Regions from separate parts of the Homo sapiens genome. Here all the other regions are linked to region 2. The links come from fine-mapping of genetic effects on gene expression. A gene starts in region 2. Each other region holds a variant in brackets. All regions are shown on one strand. Distances are between the middles of the regions. Region 1 holds the start of SNORA63C (small nucleolar RNA, H/ACA box 63C). Region 2 holds the start of OSCP1 (organic solute carrier partner 1). Region 3 has its middle 46 kb from the start of MIR4255.

Evidence for each region.
Region 1: its variant is fine-mapped to the expression of OSCP1 in testis (GTEx, PIP above 0.99). The same link has a PIP of 0.9 or more in esophagus muscle, nucleus accumbens, ovary, prefrontal cortex and tibial nerve.
Region 3: its variant is fine-mapped to the expression of OSCP1 in subcutaneous fat (GTEx, PIP 0.91).

The regions. Positions count from the first base shown.
Region 1 is chr1:36,415,878-36,424,058 of GRCh38, forward strand. OSCP1 (organic solute carrier partner 1) reads right to left here. Exons shown (of 10, transcript NM_145047.5): 5 at 7,486-7,589; 6 at 6,891-7,019; 7 at 6,273-6,342; 8 at 4,599-4,738; 9 at 3,114-3,177; 10 at 2,029-2,378. The coding sequence ends at 2,262. It overlaps SNORA63C (small nucleolar RNA, H/ACA box 63C), which reads right to left and starts at 2,701; the gene lies at 2,571-2,701. RefSeq lists an enhancer at 5,361-5,860. The variant C/T (reference allele first, on the strand shown) is at 4,639.
Region 2 is chr1:36,445,753-36,453,933 of GRCh38, forward strand. OSCP1 (organic solute carrier partner 1) reads right to left here and starts at 4,699. Exons shown (of 10, transcript NM_145047.5): 1 at 4,506-4,699. The coding sequence starts at 4,617. It overlaps LOC107984940 (a long non-coding RNA gene), which reads left to right. Exons shown (of 3, transcript XR_001737976.2): 3 at 3,706-3,813. RefSeq lists an enhancer at 616-910 and a silencer at 4,825-5,094.
Region 3 is chr1:37,111,632-37,119,812 of GRCh38, forward strand. No RefSeq gene overlaps it. Among named protein-coding and RNA genes, the nearest start is that of MIR4255, 46 kb to the right of the region's middle. RefSeq lists an enhancer at 3,118-3,287. The variant G/C (reference allele first, on the strand shown) is at 3,936.

The DNA of each region.
Region 1 (8,181 bases), 30 kb before region 2:
ATCACCAGCATCGCTCTGGGATAGGTGGAGGGAGGAGGCTGCGGCTGCTTCTCGGCACCTCACGGCCCACCTCCAAGGCCCTGGGACACACTCAGAGCAGTGACATTCTGATATGTGACAGCAAGGTGGGAGCCGGACTCAAAACAGGTCAGAACCTTCCCATTCATCTGTCACCCAGTCAGGCCCCCCTGAATGGTGGCCAGATTGCTGAAAAGAGACTAAAACGAAAGGCACTTTGTACATCTGATGCAACAGGTGTTTTATAGCACAATATGCTTCTCCTCCCCAACAGACTTTTCGTGAGTATGTGGAGGGGGAGGGTGTCTTTATAGGTAAGGAAGTGTAACTTTAATGGGTAGGGAGCAATTAACATTTATTTGGTGATTTATATTCTTTTTTTTTTTTTTAATTGAGACAGAGTTTCGCTCTTGTTGCCCAGGCTGGAGTGCAATGGCATGATCTTGGCTCACTGCAACCTCTACCTCCTGGGTTCAAGCGATTCTCCTGCCTCAGCCTCCTGAGTAGCTGGGATTACAGGCATGCGCTACCAGGCCTGGCTAATTTTGTATTTTTAGTAGAGACAGGGTTTCTCTATGTTGGTCAGGCTGGTCTCGAACTCCTGACCTCAACTGATCTGCCCGCCTCGGCCTCCCAAAGTGCTGGGGATTACAGGCATGAGCCACCATGCCCAGCCCTTGGTGATTTACATTCTGTATCTAAACCCTTTGCCTTTGGAAAAGCCAAAGGGCAGCTTCCATTACATTCTAGAATGATGTTCACCTTGGTCCGTCCCAGGTGTGAGGGGATGGAGAGGTTCCTGTAGTTGGCCCAATCTCAGGCAATGTCCAGCTCAACTTAGTTTCTCTCCAGCCCTCTGCCATTCTGGATATTCCTTCCATAGGATTGAATGGGTCTGAACCTGCCAGTTACTCAGTCCTGGGAAGGAGCCTATGGCAGAGGGCTGCTGCGCCTTTCTGAAGCAGTAAGGGCAGCCCTGGCTGGAGACATTTTACATGGATTCCAGTGAGACTTGGCCTCCTGCTGCATCCTGCAAAGTCTGCTCCCGCCCAGGGAAGCGGCTCAGCTAGAATGCAGAAGGGAAAGGTGCATACCACACGTGCCTCCCATGCACCCAATCTAGGGTGCTGTTTGGTGACTCACGGTGATGCAGAGGAGACCGATGTCACAGTGCATCCTGCCGGGTATCTTTTTTTTTTTTGAGACATAATCTCGCTCTGTCACCCAGGCTGGAGTGCAGTGGCGCGATCTAGGCTCACTGGAAGCTCTGCCTACCAGGTTCATGCTATTCTCCTGCCTCAGCCTCCAGAGTAGCTGAGACTACAGGCATCTGCCACCATACCCAACTAATTTTTTTTGTATTTTTAGTAGAGATGGGGTTTCACTGTGTTAGCCAGGATGGTCTCGATCTTCTGATCTCGTGATCCGCCCACCTCAGCCTTCCAAAGTGCTGGGATTATAGGCCTGAGCCACTGTGCCCGGCCTATGCTGGGTGTCTTTAGAAGGCAAAGCACACTCAGGGGTAGAGGAAGACCCTGGGGGTAAGGAGTACATGTCATGCTGAAAAGAAGAAAATATTCTCTTGGTATACATGTCAGTATGGGATAAACTGACACCGCATGGATAGACGGACGTGCGGGAAGTACAGATGCTGGCATGTCCTGCCTGGGGCCAGCTGAGTGTTCCCTGTCACGGCCTTGCTTACTCTTCCTCTGAGGTTACAGTTCCTAGTGAGCCATGGAGAAGAGGGTCTTTTACACTGAGCCCTCACTGTTTATGGCAACTGCCTCGAACAGTCATTGATTTCAAGCTTGCCTACAGGCAGAATGTATCCCAGAAAGCCAAGGATTTTGTTAATGTTTACAGGCCTTTGTAGATCCCCACAGGAAAGCTGAAATAGTAATCCTGAAAATGACAGTAGGGGTGACCCCTTACCCACTCTGGGGCTCAAACCTATGGCTCAGGAGGCTTTTGGTGGCTGCCACAGAATTAAGAATAAAATGGGAAAGGTCAAGTTTAAAAGTCAGAATATATTTCACTGAAAATATGTGTATGTGTGTGCCTTCAAGAGTGAGTGCTCCTCAAGGGAGACTCACACAGTTCCTTACAACATAAATAAGAAATAGACGTAATGGCTTCACTCAGTAGAAAACTAGCAGCATCATTCTGGGCCATGGGGCATTCCCCAGGGGTCACCATCCAGCAGCCTCTCCCTGGGGGCAGAGGACGCCTGGTCAGAACAGCTATAACTCATCCATCATGGCGAGCAAATCGTCCCCTTTGCTGGTGCTCAGCCTTGGCTGCTCCGTGATCTCAAACTCCCCCATGATTCGAGCCAGCTCCTCGCTCCGTTGCTGGTCCTATGAGGGAAATGAGAGGTAAAAGGGCATGAAGAGGCTGTGCTGGCAGGCCGCCTCTTTGTGCACTAGGCACTTAGTTTTTTGTCCCATGACTGATATGTTTCAGTTGCGCACCTGTTTGTCAGAAAAGGGATTGTAGTTACAGGCTGATCAGAGAGAAGAAGAGGGTCTATATATTTTTTTTCTTAATCAACATGTATGTGACCAAGCATCCCTGGCTGCTACAGAATAGCAGATGGGTATAGTTAAGAAACAACTTTAATTTGAGCAGGGGGAATGACAATACAGCACTTAACAGCTATATTGTAGTCTGAATCCTGCTTGAAAAAGAGGGTCTCTGAAGTTCAACGTTATATAAGATGAGGAAAGGAGGAAGGGAGGCTGGGTACGGTGGCTCACCTTTGTAATCCCAGCACTTTGGGAGGCCAAGGCGGGTGGATCACTTGAGGTCAGGAGTTTAAGACCAGCCTGGCCAACTTGGTGAAATCCCACCTCTACTAAAAATACAAAAAAAAAAAAAAAATTAGCTGGGCATATTGGCGGGCACCTGTAATCCCAACTACTCGGCAGGCTGAGGCATGAGAATTGCTTAAACCTGGGAGGTGGAAGTTGCGGTAAGCTGAGATCAAGCCACTGCACTTCACCTGGGTGACAGAGCGAGACCCTGTCTCAAGAAAAAAAAAAAAAGATGAGGAAGCGAATACGATTGGACCCTGTGTTATCCCCTGTACGTACCTGGGTGGCTTGTATGTTGATAACTTCATAGGATAACTCTTCTGGCCTGGTTAGCGCTGCTTGTCTGGATGAGATGGTAAAGAAAATGGGTGCAACATTAGGGTTCTTTCCCTGCCAGCATGGCAAACTGGCTCTTGATCAGTTGGCAACCTATTTTTTCTGCCTCATCTGCCATTTCTCTTAAACTTTCTACCCCATCTCCCACCAATGTACCCTACGACCTAGAAAGTCAAGTTCTTTTATCTCTCTGTGACTTTGCACATTATAAGCCCTGCCAAGAATGTTTCTTCCCTTCCTCTGCTTGGCAAACTCCAAGACCTAGATCAAATGCCAGCTCCTTCAATCTGCCAGTGCAAAGTCAGTCACTGTCCTCAATTAGCGCATTCATGACACAGCACTGAAATAACTTATATCTGTACACGTTCACTCTCCCACTAAGCTGAGAGCTTCCTGAGGACAGGCTCTAGGTCTTACATCTTTGCATTCCCAGGACTTTACATAGTACCTGTCACACAGAATTAAACAAAAGAAGTTATTAATAGTTCAATGAAAGGTGACACTCACGCCAAATACTTGGTTTTGAGGAGGATCACATGAGATAATGCATGCAAAAGTGCTCTGTAAACTGTAAAGCACTATAAATCACCGTGGGTGATTTACTATTGCTGTTGGTTTTGGGTTATACTGTCTAATACAGGGAAATCAAGCTCCAACCTCACTCTGGTTTCTTAACACACTGTCTTAATCTGGTCATCCTGGCTTCTAACACTGCTTATTCAGCTGTTCTCTGATAAGTAAAACATTATAACTCTTTTTTTGTTTTGTTTATTATCATTTTTTAGAGACAGGGTGTTGCTCTCTCTCCTAGGCTGGAATGCAGTGGCATGATCACAGCTTGCTTAACCTTAAATTCCTGGGCTCAGACGATCCTTCTGCCTCAACCTCGTGGGTAGCTGGGACTACAGGTGCGCACCATCACACCGTCTCTTTTTTTTTTTTTTTTGAGACAGAGTCTTGCTGTGTCTCCCAGACTGGAGTGCAATGGTGCAGTCTTGGCTCACTGCAACCTCTGCCTCCCGGGTTCAAGTGATTTTCCTGCCTCAGCCTCCCGAGTAGCTGGGACTACAGGTGCGTGCCACCACACCCAGCTAATTTTTTTTTTTTTTTTGTAGAGACGGGGTTTCACCATGTTAGCCAGGATGGCCTCGACCTCCTGACCTTGTGATCCGCCTGCCTTGGCCTCCCAAAGTGCTGGGACTACGGGCGTGAGCCACTGCACCCGGCCCCATCTCTTTTTTTGAATGACTCTGGAAGATTCAGGCCATTTCATCCTGGTGGGCTATTTAGATTATTAAATTTGTTGGTATTTTATTTGTGATATTTACACAAATATTTATAAGTGCCACTGGTTTGTAATAGTCATTTTGTGTTCTTGTCATGCTTGGGATTTTTATATGTCTTTAACGAAACAGGTTTAAAACATACTCCTCTTCTTCATCGGTGGTAAAGAGATTCAACCGGAATC[C/T]GGGCTCAGGGCCACTGGGTTTCTTAATCTCCATCCCTCCCATCAGCCTGGCCAAGAAATTCAGCTCTTCTTTAGCAAGAGGGTTTGGAGCAATGCTTTCCTGCAGAAACAGTTGCATGATTTTTAGCCACATGAAGGCAATCACATTTCCTGCTAAAACCTCAGAGACACAGGTAGGTATTATAAAATAAGGTAGAACAATTGCTATTTAAATTATTTCTGGGTCCAAATAAAGTGTAGAAAGCAGCCTTAACCAAAAGAAAAACAATCACGTCAGTAGCAGAGGGAATGTAGCAACTTTGCAAACCAGAGATTTTCATACTTTCCGCAAGAGTGGAAGCCCCAGGGATCCACGTTTCTCCTCTCACTACCTTCCTCCTTGAAGAAGTGTATGGCTTCCTTTCCTGTCAATCGGTTTCCCTCAGCATTTACAAGTCGCCTCAGTCCAGTCTCCTTCCAGAGGCGCTGCCACACTGCCCTCAGGTGGTGACGGCCGGGAACACACCCTCGAGTCCATTCCCTCCTCTCACAGTCCTCATCCTGCCTCATCCTGTACCCCTCTTCCTTGTAGCCTGGCCTCCCCTGTTCTGCCTCTCCCCTCACTCCACCACCAGTTACCTAAATGCAGTTTTTGTCTCATTTCTCCCTGGCTTGAAACAAAGCCCTCTGCCTCCTGTCGAAAGAACAAAGCCCAAATTGTTTACCACCCTTCCTGGTCAGGCCCCAGGGTCCTGTCCAGGCGAGTCTCTGCCAGCAAGCCTCCATGATACTGTGATCCGTTACGTAAGCCTCGTGGGAGACACCGCCATCCTCCTCCCGGGAACACTCTTGCCCCTCTGTCACCTTGGTCCGTGTGCCCATTTCTCCCTCTCTGCTGTTTCATAGTTTACCTACTCTAGAGCCCCACTTCAATATCCCCGCCTCTGAAATGCCTTCTTGATCCCTGTGATCCCTGTCCACTGGACAGACATGAATTCCTCTGGCACAGCACTTTGTGCAGGATCCCCAGCCAGCCCTTCCTCCACCTCATTTGAGTTGTTTCTTTCACCGTCTTTCCCAGGGTACCACAGGCCCCTTCAAGATGGGACCACATCTACGTCAGCTTCGTGTCCCTGGGTCCCCAGCCCATAGAAGCAGTTTAATAAATGTTTGCTGAATAATTTAATATTCTGTGATCTCTCCTACAGCTAGCTGGGAGCTAGTTCAGCGAAAACTTCTAAGGATGGAATTCAGAGAAACTAAAACCCCCCACTCTGACTTAGCTACCACGGTGCTATAGAGGGAAACATTAAAAAGAAATGTTTTAATGATCAGAATACACACGAGTGCTGATGTCAGCAATCACGGACCTAATGGCACTGGTACTACGCTACTGCATATGTCCTGGTGTGTGGTTCCTCTTAATTATGGTGGCCGAGCCAAGCCTAAAATTACCTAATTAGTGAGATCACTGGAAGTCTCCATGAAAAGCTACAATTAAAACCTGTGTACTCGTAAGGTGGAATGGAGAAGATTGCACACAACAGGGGAAATGTTGGCTAGATCCGAAATCTAAAGCGTTCTCACCTCTCTTTATGTAGACTTCCGTATCTAGAGAGAAGCTGTGAGGGTAGGCAAGGAAGGCAGAAGCTCACCTGGGTCCATGAGGCTAAGTTCTTTGATGATCCAGACACATGAGTTTCCACAGGCTGATTCACGCTGTACCTGGTGTGTCAACAGAAAATGGTGACATTATCCAGCCCCTTTCCACGGACTTCTCTCTAACTCGTAAGCATAGTTTGTAGCTTTTATTCTGAGACATTAAATAGCATCCAGAAAGGTGCTGTGGGTACAGAATGCAACTGAGTGTGTGTTAACCATTCACATTTCACTTCTTCCTAAAGAAAAACACCTGGGGAGGCTGGGTGGCAATGCCTCCTCTTGTGAAGAGTAACACGCATCACTGAAAATATATGCAGCTTTACAGAACGGATAAGTCTTTCTGGATTTCCACTGCAACACAGATTTTGGCTAGTTCTCTTGCATGGCTATTGAACATCATGTATCTTTTCATTCTGTTGAGTTGCCTTATGTTTGGCGTTCCTGGGTGCCCTTTGAAATGTCAGGCCTCTGTATGCAGTGTACCTAAGGGGAAATTACTCCTATTGTCGGCAGGGATTTTCATAGCAGAAGTCTGGCTGTTTCTCTTTTTTTTTTTTTAAATGAAGTGACCTCCCTTGGACTTGAATTCACTCAGAGAAGAATTTGCTTACATGTTAGTTCCCAGTTTCAGGACTCGGTCTCCATAAAGTTCAAAAGAACCTTCTTTGGGTGCAGGGACATAGTTTCCACCATGCTTGAATTCTATCCTCTTCACTTCTTCACCTTTGTTGTTGAACATTCTACAATACAAAGTATGACATGATGGAATGTTCTCCAAGCTTAGGTAGTCCTGGAGGCTTCTTTATTCTTTGTACTACAGAACAAAAAAGGAATACATGCTCTCCTTCAAGATAAAGGTGCTGGTTGTAATAATAATAATAATAATACAATAATAATATTTATTGAGCATATGTATGTGCCAATTGCTTTGTAAGCACGTTAGAGCACTATTATCTTATTCATCCACACAGTAACCATTTAACAGATGAGGAAATTAGTCCTGGGGAACTGGGTAACTTGCCTCAAGTCCCTCTACTAAGTGACAAGGTGGGGATTAGAACCTGACTTTTTCAATAGCTGTTTTACTGAAGAAAGAGAAGGGCTGGGCAGACTGTGAGTGGCTTGGCAGTGCGGCATTCCGTGTGCGGCCCATGTGCTGATTTCCTAGCACCCCAAACATAGCTCTGATCATTGTTGGGAATTCACCTGATGAGTCCTGGAACTTCAGTTCCCCAAGGAACAGGCCCGGACACCGGCAACACAAAGCGACCGTTATTATTCTGAACTTTGTCCTTTAGAAACATGGATACCTGGAAAAAAATACATTTATTGTCATTTTTCTTGGTATATTTTCATAGACATCAATATTCTGAGGGTGGAAAGTGCGTAATGGTTTGGGAACATGACCTATGAGTTTATAACAATAAGAAGGGAGAGGCTGGGCGCAGTGGATCATGCCTGTAATCCCAGCACTTTGAGAGGCTGAGGCAGGCGGATCATGAGGTCAGGAGATAGAGACTATCCTGGCTAACACGGTGAAACCCTGTCTCTACTAAAAATACAAAAAATTAGCCGGGCGTGGTGGTGGGCACCTGCAGTCTCAGCTACTCAGGAGGCTGAGGCAGGAGAATTGCTTGAACCTGGAAGGCAGAGGTTGCAGTGAGCCAAGATCGTGCCATTGCACTCCAGCCTGGGCGACAGAGTAAGACTTCATCTCAAAAAAATAAAAAAATAAAAAAAAGAAGGGAGAAAAAATTACACTTGCAGAGTTAACTGTATTTTAACAAACAGAACTATTTTTTTTTTTGAGATAGGGACTCACTTTGTCACCCAGGCTGGAGTGCAGTGGCACGATCTTGCCTCACTGCCACCTCAGCCCCGCCAGCTCACGCGATTCTCCCG
Region 2 (8,181 bases):
TGCCCAGGCTGGAGTGCAATGGTGCGATCTCGGCTCACTGCAACCTCCACTTCCCAGGTTCAAGCGATTCTCCCGCCTCAGCCTCCCGAGTAGCTGGGATTACAGGCACCTGCCATCATGCCGGCTAATTTTTTATTTTTAGTAGAGACGGGGTTTCTCCATGTTGGCCAGGCTGGTCTTGAACTCCTGACCTCAGGTGATCTGCCCACCTTGGCCTCCCAAAGTGCTGGGATTACAGGTGTGAGCCATCACACCCGGCCTGGCATTTATTTTTTATTTGTTTATTCTGAGAGGGAGACTTGCTTTGTCGCCCAGGCTAGAGTGCAGTGGCGTGATCTCAGCTCACTGCAACCTCTGCCTCCCGGGTTCAAGCGATTCTCCTGCCTCAGCCTCCTGAGTCGCTGGGATTACAGGCGCCTGCCACCACAACAGGGTAATTTTTGTATTTTTTGTAGAGATGGGTTTTCACCATGTTGGCCAGGCTGGTCTCGAACTCCTGACCTCAGGTGATCCACCCACCTCGGCGTCCCAAAATGCTGGGAATATAGGCGTGAGCCACTGCGCCCGGCCCCTGCAGCATTTATTTAACTGGTGGTATAGTGTGATAGACTTGTGGGAATTCAAGGAGGTGGAGTTTTAATCCCCTTGCAGGTGTGTTTGGGGAATAGTGGTGCTGCAAGGGGGTCATCTCTGAAGGACAGTGACTCTCGCTGATAAAATGGAACTGGCAGATGCTCCCGAAGGCAGGCAGGCTGAACGCCAGCAGGGGTCTCTGTAGTGCTGTGTGCTCCCCTACTCCTTTCCTCCTGAGAATACAGGGAAGAGAAACACCCTCTTTTTCTATTATTTCTCCAGATGACTTATTTGTGACAACTCCACTTTAGTTCTGTTTTGAGTGGGGGCAGGCCCAAGGCTATTCAGAGCTAGTCGTTAAACTGGAACTAGAAAAATAAAACCAGAGTCTCACTGCCCTTTGGTTGCTTGTGCTACACTGTGATTGGCATGTCTTGGAAAAATCACTTTGTGGCCACATGCCTCAGTTTCCTCTCCTGTAAAATGAGGAATGTAAGCAAAAGATAATAAGGTCTTATTTATAAATATTTTTAAGAGGCAAAGGTAGCTTTTATTATTCTCGCCATTGCTTTAAACAGGAGACAACATTCAATATGCAACACTCGATAGTTGCCTCATAGAGAGAGCACTTCCTTTCTGTTGAATGCTAAACTAGAGGCTGCGTTGTGGGGGAAGCTGCAACATCTGCCTTGGCCTTGTGGGAACAGGGATGGCCTCCAGGAGACCAATTAGTCGTATAAGATAATGAAAACATCTAGAAGAAATATGATTTCCACTCAAAGCTTCGAAGAGGACTAGTTTACCAAGTCTAGTGTTTTATAGGCTCCTGTGTACAGGGATCTGTTACAGGGGCTCTCGCTCCTGTGGCCACAACAACTTTAAATGGTGGAATAGGTGGAAGACATGAGTATTTCTCAGCCCGTTGAATCCTATGCTCTCTACCCTGTTTTCTCACTCTATCTTCTACAGATCTCCAACAGCCAACTATTTTGTCATTTATTTGATAAAATCAGTGGGTATATTGGATATATATTTTTCAGACTCCTCCCTCTCCTCCTGACCTACCAACCCCCACTAAGATTCTGATATAGTCCCCAAGGTATGGCAGCAGAGTATAGTGGTTATAGTAAGGGGACTAAGTGGTTATAGTAAGGGGACATTGGCTGAGTATGAGGACATTGGTTATATGAGGGGACATTGGTTATAGTAAGGGGACATTGGCTGAGTATGAACTTTGGAGCCTGATGCCTTGGGCTCAAATCCTTTACTTTTCCTCCTACCAGCCATGTAACTCTGGGCAAATTAGTCTTAGTTTCTCCATCTGTAAAATGGGGATAGTAATATTACCTATGTGTTACAATAGTTGGGAGGATTAAGGTGTTTAAGAGGAGCCCTTGGTACAAAGTAAGTGCTTGATTTTTCATTGTTTTATTGTTGATTGCTGTCACTAGAATCAGTTACTGGAGTGGACTGATCAATAGCCCTACCTCCAGTGAATGTCCAGAAGGGCTGCATCAGGCTCCATATAGTATCTCACATAGTGTTTGACACTCAGTCAAAATCTGTGGAATGAATGAGTGTGCGAATGTAAATTACTAAAGATGGCCGAAACTCCCAAAACCATATTTAGCAAAAGCAGAAAAAAGGCTATAACTCCTAAAGGTAAAGCTGTCCTCTAGTATTCCAAGGGCCTTGTCCAGACCTCCTCTTGAAAGATACCTATTACTCATTGTGTTAAACATATTAAATACATTATTTCATTCAATCCTTACAACTTTGCTTTAACATATATGTATTATTACCATTTTATGGAGAAACAGGTTTATAGAGGTTACACCCAAAGGGCATGCAATTAGTTAAATGGTAAAGCTGGAATTGGGATCCAGGTCTGTAAGACTCTAGAGAGTATGTTCTTAATTGCTAATTTACACTATCTTCCAAGATGCAGACTACCTACCAGTCTGAGGACTCCAGCATGTCACCTCATTGGTGCCACTAGCCTGAATGAAATCAGATCACACAGGCACCAAGGAAAACAGAACCCTCTCAAAGGAAAAATGACAATGCTATATAAAACTGCCAATTTAGATAATCAGTTCAAAAAACATTTTGTGATCACTAATTTATTCTGGTCTAGGAATTATGGTAGGTGCTGGAGTACAAAGATGAATAAGACAATCAAGCGGGAGATAGACATATACACAGATCATTTCAGTATAGCATGGCCAGTGGTAAGGTACTGAGGAGCAGGCATGGGGTGCTATGGGAGCACAGGCTGCTATGAGAGCATGCACAGGCCCTTTCTGCATATGGGGAGGATTCCTGAAGGAGATGATTCTTAAGCCGAATAATGCAGGATTGAAGGGGAAGAATGTAGGGATGGGAATTACTAGCACAGAAATACGAACAAACATGGTTTAAGCGGAGATCTATGAGCAGTTTGGTATTATTGGGAAACAGGAGGCAGGCAGTGGTGGAAGAAGGGACTGCAGAGGAAGACAGAGATCAGATAAGGAAGGGCCCTGAAATGGCCTGTGCAAGGACTTGGTCTTAACCCAGATGGCAGTGGAAAGCTGACAAAGGGTTTTAGGCAGGGGCAAGTTTGGACAGATACACATTTTAGAAAGCTCATTGGCGGCAATGTGCAGAATGAATGGAGGGGGTATGTTATAGGGAGTTATTTTTAGCTCTTTATGCATGGACTTGCACTCAGTCACACACACACAATAGTTAATATCTGAATATGTATGCTTAGCATCTGAATATGTATGTTGAACATCAATTGAGCATACAAAGATTAATGGAGAGAATGTTTTAATTGGCGGCCATGTCAATTGCCTTTTCAACTTTTCCTCCTCCACTTTGAAATATAATATTTCCTTCATACTTAATCCTAGGAAATTTGGTATAAGCAAGTTGTTTGCCGAGAAGGGAGGAAAAGAGGAAAAGGAACAGAGTGGCAGAGTGTTCTGAGTCGTCATTTTTCTGGGGATTAGTGTGGTGTCCATGGGAGGCAGATTTTGCATTTTCGAAGCTCTCATATAATTATTTTCACAATTGTATTCCCCTCCAACACTTGTGAGGAGATTTATAACTTTCTTATTTTTTTCATATTTATCTATATTATTTTAGAACACCAAATTTCTAGAAATACTTCTGAGATGAGTAAGACCAATCTCCAGCTTATGTGGGAAGATACTACCATAAAGAAATTAAGAATCTGAACCTGGGCTGGACGCGGTGGCTCACGCCTATAATCCCAGCACTTTGGGAGGCCGAGGGGGGCAGATCGTTTGAGTCCAGGAATTGAAGACCAGCCTGGGAAACATGGTGAAACCCCATCTCTACTAAAAATACAAAAATTAGCTGGGTGTGGTGGTGCATGCCTGTAATCCCAGCTACTTGGGAGGCTGAGGCACGAGAATCGCTGGAACCCAGGAGGCAGAGGTTGCAGTGAGCCGAGATCGTGCCACACACTCCAGCCTGGGCGACAGAGCGAGACCCTGTCTCAAAAAAAAAAAAAAAAAAAAAAAAAAAAAAAAATCAGAACCTGTTCCTTGGGGGTAAAGAGGATGCTTGGACTAGCAAGGGGTATGATACTAGATGGTGGGCAGCTGGGACTCCTACATTTGGAAGGCACTGATTGACAAGAGAGACTGGGAAATCACCTCTCCCATTTGAAGAGATGGGGAAATTAGGGAGGTCAGGCACCCTAGTGTCCACTGGGAGTATTAAGTTCCTCTGCTGTGAAAAAAGCTTTTGGGGGGATTTGACTCCCGAGGGGCTCCAAATGGATGTGGCTTGTAAGAAAGGTCCCTGGTTATAAGAGTGAAGTGTGTAGGGGTGCGGGTCTGGCTGTGGGTGTTAGGGCGATGATGAGAGGGCCGGGCTGCTGGCTGCGGGTCTGGCTGAGCGGGCCGGGGGCCTCTCACCTTTGCGGGCCTTGTCTCCCGGGATGTTCTGGGCCCGCAGCCGTTGGTCGAGGATGTAAAGCATCTCCCCGCCCAAGTTCAAGAAGAGCAGCGGTAGCGTCCGCACCGACATGGTGCTGGAAACGAGCTGGACTGGTGAAGAGCCCCGGGGTTCGGTAGCCAGTGGCCTGAAGGCCAGGCCGCAGCGTCCCAATAGTCCGGTTGCTGGGGCAACGCCGTGACGGGAAGAGCGAGCCAATCAGAAGGCGGTTTGGTGGGAGGTGCCCTGAAGACGGGAGCTAATTGGTCTGGGTGGTGGACCGTCCCGGGGGGATTGGTCCGAGCCAGAGGCCGGCGCGGCGTTGGGCGCGGCTGGGGAGCTGTGCTTCTGAGAGTAGGTTTCCCTCGAAAGGGCGAGGGCCGGGCCAGGGCTGGGGGTGGTCTCGACACAGCCAGCCCGGCGCTTGGGACCCCGGCCGCTGGCGCGGGGCCTCAGGTTCCTATAACAGAGGAAAGCCCAGGCAGAACGGCATTAGAGCAGGCTCGGGTCAGACGGACCTGGGTTGGAATCACGGCTCGTGATTTCTTGCTGTGTGACTTCGGGCAGGGTTTGAGCCTTGGCTTCCTCTTACGTAACATGGAGCTGGCACTCACATCACAGGGCGGCTGAGAGGAATCAGTCAGATCATGGAAAGGCCCCGAAAGCACTCAATAAAAATGGTAACTGACTTTTCTTTTAGACGAGGGAAGGATCAGAAGTCCTGAGTCGTTTGCATCGCCTCCCAAAAGTTTACTTGAAGTGAAGCCCCTCCTGGTTTCATACTCCATGAAGCAAACCAGTCCCGTCCGTCCCCGTGTGTCCAGTTCCCAGAGGATGCGCCTGGGGGCTCTGGGAAGTTCCCTCCTCGACGCTGTTCCGAAGGCCTCCCAACCATTTCTTTTTTCTTTTTTTTTTTTTTTTGAGACGGATTTTGCCCTTGTCGCTCAGGCTGGAGTGCAGTGGCGCCATCTCGGCTCATTGCAACTTCCGCCTTCAGGGTTCAAGCGATTCTCCTGCCTCAGCCTCCCGAGTAGCTGGGATTACAGGCGCCCGCCACCATGCCCGGCTAATTTTTGTATTTTTAGTAGAGACGGGGTTTCACCATGTTGGCCAGGCTGGTCTGGAACTCCTGACCTCAGGTGATCTGCCCGCCTGGGCCTCCCAAAGTGCTGAGATTACAGGCGTGAGCTATCACGCCCGGCCCCAACCATTTCTCTTTGAGGGCAGCGACTCCCTTCCTTACCTCCATCTTAAGCTCCAGGATTACTTTTTGCCATCTGCTGTATATTTTTACTCTGATGAACAACCATTTCTGTAAATTTCAGTACTTCCAAAACCTACTAATTATCTTTCCCTCCAGCTACTCAAACTTGAAACTTGGGCCTTGGCTTCCAAATCTGTTTCCCAGGGTCTTTTATCAGTCATCATATTATGCTTTTTCCTCCAACACCTTTCTTACATTCATCCCTTCATTTGTTTTTCTGTCTGCATTGCTATGTTCCTCTGTATCACTGTTCTTTTCTCTCTTCTACCTTGCACTGGCTGCTAAGCTAAATGTCAGAAGACATCACTTTTTTTTTTTTGAGATGGAGTTTCACTCTTGTCGCGCAGGCTGGTGTGCAATGGCACGATCTCGGCTTACTGCAACCTCCGCCTCCTGGTTTCAAGCGATTCTTCTGCCTCAGCCTCCTGAGTAAGCTGGGATTACAGGCATGGACCAGGGCACCATGCCCGGCTAATTTTGTATTTTTAGTAGAGATGGGGTTTCACCATGTTGGCCAGGCTGGTCTCGAACTCCTGACCTCAGGTGATCTGCCCGCCTCGGCCTCCCAAAGTGTTGGGATTACAGGCATGAGCCACTGCGCCCGGCCAGCATCACTGTCAACATGACACATCCCTTCAGTGGTTTCCTACTCTTTGCCAGATCACAGTCTAGATGCCTTGGCATGGCATTCCAGGCTCTCCACAGGCTCCAGCTACCTTTTTTTTTTTTTTTTTTTTAAAGAGATAGGGGTCTTACTTTGTTGCCCAAGGTTGGAATGCAGTGGCACCCTGGTGGCTCACTGCAGCCTAGAACTCCTAGCCTCAAGTGATTCTTCCACCTCAGACTCCTTAGTTGTTGGGATTTCAGGTGAGAGCCACCATACCCGGCCAACTACCTTTTTAAAGCCATCTCCTGCACCTGGCCACCTCCTCTCCCCCAGTCCAGTTGAACTTGTCAGCAGGCTGCCTCTTCCTCATTACCACACCACTGAAAAGTCTTGTCCTGCCATAACTGAGCCCAAGTCCTTCCCATATTAACATTCTCCTTCCATCCCTGCTAGTCTGTTTTCCTTCCTTTCCTTCCCAGTGAAGTGTTTTGAACGAGTTGACAACACTCACAACTGGAACCTCCTTAACATCCTCACTCCCCACCTCATTGCAACTGGTATTATGCTCCCTGAACCCCACTGAAACTGCTTCACCATGAATACTTTTTGGTCCTTCCCTTAACTGATATCTCAGCATCAGGACTATACAGTATCCCATGGCTGGCAGCCCAAGGCTTTGTTTAATTTGGTTATTTTGCCTGCTCTGTGCTCTGTTTTAAAAGGGAATACAGGCCAGGCGCAGTGGCTCACACCTGTAATCCCTGCACTTTGGGAGGCCAAGGCCAGCAGATCACTTGAGGTCAGGAGTTCAAGACAGGAGTTCAACACCAGCCTGGCCAACATGGTGAAACCCCATCTCTACTTCGCTGGGTGTGGTGGCACACACCTGTAATCCCAGCTACTGTGGACGCTGAGGCAGGAGAATCGCTTGAACCTGGGACGGGGAGGTTGCAGTGAGCCAAGATCACACCACTGCACTCTAGCCTGGGGGACAGAGCAAAAACTCTGTCTCAAAAAAATTAAAATAAATAAATAAGAGGGAATACAACTAGGATAGGAATGTAATAAACACCTTAGCATCATTACTTCATGTTAGGCCTTCATGCATTTTTGTTACCTGCCTTGCTCCCAAAAGCATTTGAGTTTGCTGTAGTGTACTCTTCCCTTAGCTTCTCAGACCTTTTTCTTGGTCCCTAAGCAGTGTGGTATAGTGAACAGGACATAGGCTCTGGAGTCAAGACAGAGCCAGCTTTGAATCCTAGACCTTTCTCTTCCCAGCTATATGAATTTGGACAAGTTACCTAACCTCTCTGAGTCTCAGTTCTCTCATGACTCTCTCATCTCTCATGGCTAAAATGAGGATAATTAGCCAATGTGCAGAGTAAAGGTGGCTGTGAATATTAGATAATGTGCCTAAGGAAGCAGTTAAAACAATGCCTTTTGACCGGATGCAGTTGCTCGCGCCTGTAATCCCAGCACTCTGGGAAACCAAGGCATTTGGGAGGGCAAGGATTGCTTGAGGCCAAGAGTTTGAGTAACCTGGGCAACATAGTGAGACCCTCTCTACAAAAAATAAAAAAATTAGCTAAGCGCAGTGGCTTACACTTATAGTCCTAGCTACTTAGGAGGCAGAGGCAAGAGGATTGCTTGAGCCCAAGAATTTGAAGTTAGTGAATTATGATCAGGCTACTGCACTCCAGTTGGGGCAACAGAGCAAGATCCTGTCTCTAAAAAAACAACCAGCCAAACCAACCAACCAACCAACGAAAAACACACAAATGCCTTT
Region 3 (8,181 bases), 670 kb after region 2:
AATTTCCAGAGCTTCCCAAGTATGGTAAGTTCTATGCTCTCATCCTTCCAACGGATATTCCTATACAGTAGAGACTAGAGAGCTAGAGCTGCATTTCTCTGACACCTTCTGATAAGTAGGTTTGCGTGTGTGATCTAGGTTTCTCCAAGTAGAAAGACCAGATGAGACGTAGAAGGCAGAAGTGAGCCACAGGCAGTGGTAGCAGTGGGGTCTCCTAGAGAAGCTCCCACTAGGGCTGCAGTCAATTCCCAGGTCTTAGGTGCTGAGCAGTGGGAGGTGGTGGCCATGGGGTTTCCCTAGAAAAGCTCTACTGTTTGCAGAATATTTCTCCTGTCATTATTTCCTGATCCTCCTAGCAATTCTATGAGCTACCTGATCCCTGTAATAAACCCCTTTCTACTCAAACTAGCTGGAGAAGGTTCTGTCTGCAAGAACAACTCCAAGTATTGCACTAGGTTCTGCTGTGGTCTTCATTCCATTCTGGCATTGTGATACAGTGGCCAGGAGCATTAACTCTTGGTATCCAATAGACCTTGGTTCAAATCCCAGCCCTATCATTTTCTGTGAGACCTTGGGACTGAGGTTGACTTCTCCTCCTGTAAGATGGTGATTATGATATGTACCTCATGGTATTATAAAGTTCAAATGAGATCATATATGTAAAGAACATACTACTGACATATAGCAAGTGCTGGATACAGGATGAAGATTATTATTCTTACAGCCTAAGTTTCTTTGTGAGCCAACCCAGGCTTCACATTGGCTATGAAAAGTCAATTTAAGAGTAGACAAAAGAATATTCATGGCAAAAAAAGGGGACCTTGACAATCTAGAGGGTGAATTGAACAAGATGAAACACATGCAGGAACTTGCAGGGGTAAATGCAAAGTCCTAATCTCGGGTAAAGAAAATCTGAACAAAGGCAGACAGGCTGAGACACAGAGCTTGGTTGCAATTACATGAGACAGATTTGTAGTGTTTAGACAACTGACCAACATGTATCACTAGGGTGATGTGTCACTAGAAACAAACACAGTCTTTGGCTGTATTAATAGAGTCAGAGTACATAGAAAGAGGGAGGTAACAGTGCTGTTCTACTCTGTGTTGACAGCCCACATCTACAAGATTTAACTTGTGAAATCCTTATCATGAGAGGATACAGCTATACTACCTTGAGTTCAGAAAAACCAACCAATATTGGGAGAGAACTAAGATAACAACTAATATCTATGGTTCTTTTAACATGTGCCAGAAGTCATTCAAAACACATTCTTAACTCTTTCCCCAGCAGGATAGACTTGGACTTGCAGAAGTGGGGATGGGCTATGTAGAATCAGACTTGGTTTTAACAATGGCATGACAAGAATGACAAATGTGGGGCACTCATGCCATTATCAGCCCCTCCCATCCCTTGGCAGACATCACTAGTCAATTACAAAAATTGATCTCACTGATCCCAAATGTGGTTTCTAAAACATCCCCTTCAACCAATATTGCACTCAATCAAAGATAAATCCTATAGGTATGTCAATCACCACATGGACAGGATGGGCAAGTGGTGACTGTGCTGTGAATTGTAGCCAACCAAGAAGAGACGGAACTTCTTCTAAAGTGAGCTGAGAAACATAAGAGAAGGCTGGCAGAGCCTCCTGGAGGCAGACACAGCCCAGCCGCTTATTCTTTGCCTCACAGGTACAGAAACTTGGTATTGTTAATGCACCCAGAATGGATCCAACTGTGTGACAGAGACAATACTGTATGTTCACCAAGTCCCATTTTATTTTCTTCTTCCTGGGCACACAAGAAGACTACATTTCCCAGCTTCCCTCACAATTAAGTTGTGGCCATGTGAATGGGTTCTGCCCAATGGGTGAGAGCAGAATCGGTAGATATCACTTCTAAGCCAGATCATAAAACCCACCTGGGAGAGTGATTATCCATGCTTTTTCTTCTCCTTCATCAGTGACCTTGGAGGTCAGGTACTGAAGACATCCACCGGGCAAGATGAAAGGAGCCTGAATCCCTGAGTCACCAAAGAGGAAAGCTCCAAGGGTTACTACCCAACCCACATCAGACTGTGACGTGAGCGAAAAGTAACCTTTGTTGTGTTAAGCTACCAAGATGTCAGAGTATATTTATTAATGTGGCAGAGCCCAGCCTAGCCTGACTACAGCAGATTGACACAACTCTGTGTGTGTTTCTCCAATGTGGACTGGGATCACCGGCATTAGAAACACCCAAGAAGCCTGTTAGACCTGCATAGTCTTGGCTCCACTTCAGAGGACCTGGAAGCATAGATGCTGGGAGGGCCCAGGAATTTACAATTTTAGCAAGTAGCCTAGTCATTCTTATTCTCCCTGAAGTTTCAAAACCACTTGCTGCTCAGCCACCCTCATAGAAGCCAATTTATCACTTTATAATGAGAAATAGAATTGTCAAGCAGAGCAGAACCTGGGGTCAGCTGACCAGTGCTATCTTTTCCCACGGACACATGTAAATGGAAAGAAATGGAATTCCCATCTGAAGGCAACTTGGGGGTCTAGAATTAGATCCAGAGAGTTGATAAAGGAGATCTTAAAGGATGTCAGCATGAGCCATGGTGGTCTGAGACCCTCTTCCCTCCACCAACCATCACTGCACATTTCATTCTGGGGTGATGTCCTGTGCAGACCAAATAGGGCACCTTCTTCCCAAGACCATGCTGGAAGCATCGAGACAATGCTGGGCTTCTGGACCCATTCTCTTTACACCTTAAAGACCACCCCTTCTGCCTCCCCAGCCATTCCTCAGACACGGGCCAACATAATGAATTAGGGAAAGCCCATGAGGCCACCCCTGGAGATGTCACACAGTGCCTGGGTATCTCCTTACCATGCATCTTCAGCATGGGGCTCAGCAGGGAGGGATGCACATACCTGCACCTGCTGTATAGATTGAGTCTCACCTGGCCTTCACCTAAGGCATAAGGCTACCTGCTCCCCAAGTCTGCTGACCATGGGCTCCAGGGCCCATGGATTTGAGTCACAGCTCTGCCACATACTGAGTGGGAAAATTGGAACAAGCCACTTCATCTCTCCAAACTGCAGTTTCTTTGCCTGTCAAATAAGGATCAAATAATAGCCACCTTTCACAGTTGTGATGGTTGCATGAGATACATATTTTTTGACAGCCCCAAGCCTCACCCTACATATAGGATGTTCAATAAAACACCGAATGGACTGTGTGACATGTGTGATGTTTGTGGTGGGAGAGGCAGAGGGGATGGACAGCATGGAGATTAAGAGTCTGCATTTTCAGGTTAGAAAGGCCTCTGTTTGAATAGTCAAGTACTAACTGTGTGGCCTCAATTTCCATAGCTATAAAATGGGAATGGGAATCCCTTCATCACAGGATTCTTGTAAAGATTAAATAAGCTAAGTGAATGGAAGCCATTACTGTGTATCTGTATGTGTATGTGTATGTGTGTGTAACCTGGTGAATAGATGTTGTGTTTGTGTATTTGTGTGTGTGATAATATCGTTAACATTTCTTGGGTGCTTCCTACATGGCAGGCACTCTTCTAAGCACTGTACTTAATTCACTTGAATTCTCACAACAATCTGAGGCAGACAGTCTCTCATTTAACAGATGTGGAAGTTGAGCTGTAGAGTTTACTTATGTTGACCTCACTGAAGGTATCCATAATCCTTCCATTTCTCCTCTGATGCTGCTTTCCCCGCTCTGGTGCCAAGAGGTGGGAAGAGTAGATGCAGCCCCTAGCCCTTGGTGGAAGCCCAGGGCTCACCTTGTTCATCCCCCAGGAACCTTATGTCCTGGGGAGCTCCATGTAGGTTTTGGGTGTGAAAAGTGGGAGTAGACGAGCAGAAGACACAGGGTTGTTGTCAGTTCTGCAGAATCCCAGAGCCCTGGAGCCTTGAGAGGTCGGTATGTCCACT[G/C]CCTATCCTTGAGCTCTGGCAGGACCAGGACTGACCTGGTGTGATTTCCTTGTGATTTGCAGAATACATCCAGGGACCTGGTAAAGTCATAAAAAGCAAGGCTGTCATGCCCTGCTACCCAGTGATTCCTTCTTAAGTGCTCACCTTAGAGAAATGCTTGCCATGAGCACCTGGAGACACCAGCAGAAATCTTCACAGCAGTGGTGATCATAAAACCCCAAACTGGGTGAGCAGGGTGGATCAGAGCCACTTTGTGGACTACTACACTTACAGCCATATGAATATCCTGCAGGAATCTTAGAAACAAAGTTGATGGAAAAGTTGCTAAATACATACACTTTTTTTTTGATTTACAAGAAGCCACTGACTCTACATTTTTAAAGAAAACAAGGGAATGATAAACCTAAAATTCAGAGAGTCACCTGTGGCAGGGAACGGGGGCCCCAGTTAGAGAGAAGCACCCCAGAGTTTCAGTGGCTTCAGAATGTTCTAGCTTTTAGGTTGATGTATTAGTCCGTTTTCACACTGCTGTAAAGAACTACCTGAGACTGGGTAATTTATAAAGAAAAGAGGTTTATTTGATTCACAATTCCACAGGCTTAACAGAAAGCATGACTGGGAGGCCTCAGGAAACTTACAATCATGGTGGAAGGCCAAGGGGAAGGAAGCTTGTCCTACCATGATGGAACAGGAGGGAGAGAGAGAGCAAAGTAGGAAGTGCCACACACTTTTTCTTTTTCTTTTTTTTTTTTCCTTTGAGATGGAGTCTCACTCTGTCACCCAGGCCAGAATGCAGTGGCACGATCTCAGCTCACTGCAACCTGTGCCTCTTGGGTTCAAGCAATTATCCTGCCTCAGCCTCCCAAGCAGCTGGGATTACAGGCATGGACCACCATGACCAGCTAATTTTTCTATCTTTAGTAGAGATGGGGTTTCATTATGTTGGCCAGGCTGGTCTCGAACTCTTGACTTCAAGTGATCTGTCCACCTCAGCCTCCCAAAGTGCTGGGATTACAGGTGTGAGCCACTGCACCCAGCCACCACACACTTTTAAACCATTGATCTCATGAGAATTCACTCACTATCATGAGAACAACAAGGGGGAAATCTGCCCCCATGATTCAATCACCTCCTGCCAGGCTCCTCCTCCAATACGACATGAGATTTGGGTGGGGACACAAATCCAAACCATATCAGTTGGGGTGGAAACACTGGTGTTTGTTTTGTTGTCTTCATAACTTATATATTATTTATATATATACTATATATATAGCTTTTATATAAATCGGATTAAATGAACAGAATAAAATAAATGAATTTCTTATTCTTTTATTGATTTTTGTTGAGATGGAGTCTTGCTATGTTGCCCAGGCTGGGGTGCAGTGGTGCCATCTCAGCTCATTGCAACCTGCGCCTCCTGGGTTCAGGTGATTCTCCTGTCTCAGCCTCCCAAGTAGCTGGGACTAAAGGCAACTGCCACCATGCCCAGCTAATTTTTGTACTTTTAGTAGAGATGGGGTTTCGCTATGTTGTCCAGGCTGGTCTTGAACTCTGACCTCAGGTGATCCGCCCGCCTTGGCCTCCCAAAGTGCTGGGATTACAGGGGTGAGTGCCCACGCCCAGCTTGCCTTATTCTTATATAGCATTAGACAAGCAATTTCATATGATAGTAACAACCAATTTCCATCCTGTTTGTGTTGAGTTCTTACCATCACATTAGAAATGGCAAATATTCATAGTATTTTTTGGACCAGGTCCTGTTCTGAGCATGCTACATGTATTAACATATTTAACCTCCATGCAAATCTATGAGGTAAGTTACAATTATTATCTACATTTTGTAGCTGAGGAAACTGAGTTAGAGAGGTTATTTTGCCTGAGGACACACACCCACGCAGGACTCAAAGCCAACCTGCTCTACTCTTGAGCCTCCGTTCCTAGCCCTTGGGCACCACAGCCTTTTGTGAGCCCATAGTTTGCCTTGATGTGCCTGTTTATTCCTCACACTGACCCTCTCAGGAGTAGGTTATTATCCTGTCTTCTAGATAAGGAAACCAGGGCTTACAGTTACATGCCTGTTCTATGTGGCCCTCTGCCTCCAGCAGGCGGGGAACACGTTCACATACCACTTCCCTCTCCTCGCCCATGGCAGATCCAGCTATCTGATCAGGGCACCCACTCAGGCCCTTCTCCAGGATGGTTGCTATTAATCCATCAGAATCAGCCCACACCTTGAAACCTATTTGCCACTTCTTCACCCTAAATGACCTCCACTCCTGCAGGTCCTCAGAGACATTCCCAGCACTATTACCTGAAAAGAGCTCAGACGGTCTCCCCGTGTCTTCCTCCACTGCAGTGTCTGCACCGTCACCTGGGTGTTCCTGACCCTGAGGGGCTGGCCCTCCCACTGTTTCATGCTCCACTTCTACAATAAACCAAAACTGGCCTTGAACAAGTCTCTGATGCCCCATGCCTCAGTTTTCCCAAATGTGAACTGGATGAAAGGCTACATGATCTACCCCAAGCCTTAAGGAACAATAGCTGTTATCTGTGTTTTCTGCTCCTGTCGGAGAAAGAAGTCAGTTAAATACCAGGCCCGTTTAGGGACCCATTTCTGAAGACTCAAGACTCTGGGGCACTGCTGGCCTCATCCCCCATGAGCCTTACATTACATTTCAAGCAGCTTGTGATGGCAGCACATTGCAATAGATATTAATTGCTACATTAAATTCTATGATTTTGCTTAAGAGAATGTTCATTTAATTTCCCTGCAACTGTGGTCAACCCGATCTTTAATCGAAACTGACAGGTGCAATTTCAATCAGGTAGCAAACTTCCCTCTCTTTAAAAGAGCCAAGAATGGCATGAATATTAAATGGGTCAGGACAGTTGGCAACACTAATACAGCTTAAATCAGAACAAGCCTCAGATACAGCTTTTAATTATTCATGCTCTCCTGGTAAGTCAGGCCCTGACAACAGTGTCACTGGGAGTTCAGGAAACTTCCTCAACGTGACATGAAAGACAAGGGGGGAGCCAGGGTGGAGACAGTGTGGCCCAGGGTCCCAGGTCAGGCCCCAGATGTCTGAGGGTAATCTGGCTTGGGGAATAGGCTGGAGGGTTGTTAAATTAAAGATGGACACTACTTTTTAGCTGCTCCTCCCATCAATAGGCAGAATCTATTTCCTTTCCCATGGAATCTGACTCTTGATCTATTTTGACCAGTGGAATGCAGCAGAGGTGATGCTGTATAATTTTCACAACTGGATCCTCAGAGATCTGCAACTTCCACATTCACCAGCTTGCAGCCTCTGGCATCACTGAAATGCTGTATGCTAAATGGGGGAGGGACAGAAACAAATATAAAGAGGCACAGACTGAGATAGAGGCACAGCTAGAGAGAGACAGTGGCATACAAGAGAGGGAGAGGGAGGGGGTATAGAGAGAGAGAGAGAAACTTAGTTAAAAGAGAGTCATGTGGAGGCAGAGCCAGGAGTAGCATCAGAGGCCTGGGGAGACAGACCAGGGGAAGAAGGGACAAGAGGGAGAGGGGCAGATCAGAGCCTGCTCAGGGACCTGTCTGTGAGTACAGGAAGACCACGGGGCAGGGGTGCAGGTGGCACTAGTGTGGGGCCCAAACCAGCAGAAGAAAATAGAAACAACTGGACATGCCCAGAGATTGTTGCCTGGGGATGGAGGGTGGAGCTTGCCTTGCAGGAACCAGCTCCCAAAACAGCACAGGCTCCACTCAGCACTGCCTGGGCTGAACCAGGTGTATAAATCACTCAGGGATGGGAAACACTGATGTGTGGCCTTGGAAACAGCACCTGGCAGGGGAAATGGGGGGAAGGATTGTGAGGGGCCTGAGGGCAGACAGACAGAGAAGCAGACGGGACTGATCCGAGACAGCCAGGGAAGAGGCAGAACCCAAGAAGAGACGAGAGAGACAGGTGGAAAAGATAGGAGGAAAGACCAAAAGATGCTGCTGGAGAGGAAGGCACCAAACGTGAAAAAGATGCACACCCAGAGGTGGACAGAGGGAGACACTCGGGGAGGGCACAGGAGGTGAAGATTCAGAAAGAAAGACTTGCCTTGCACACTGACCTTTGAAATAATGTTTGCTGGGAACTGACTGTTCTCAAGAATAACACATCCTCCTATGTGTAAAGCACTTACAGTCCACCAGGCACTTACCCATCCATTATGTTCTCTCCTCCAGCCCCCCCAGCAGCCTCCCCAACTCTAG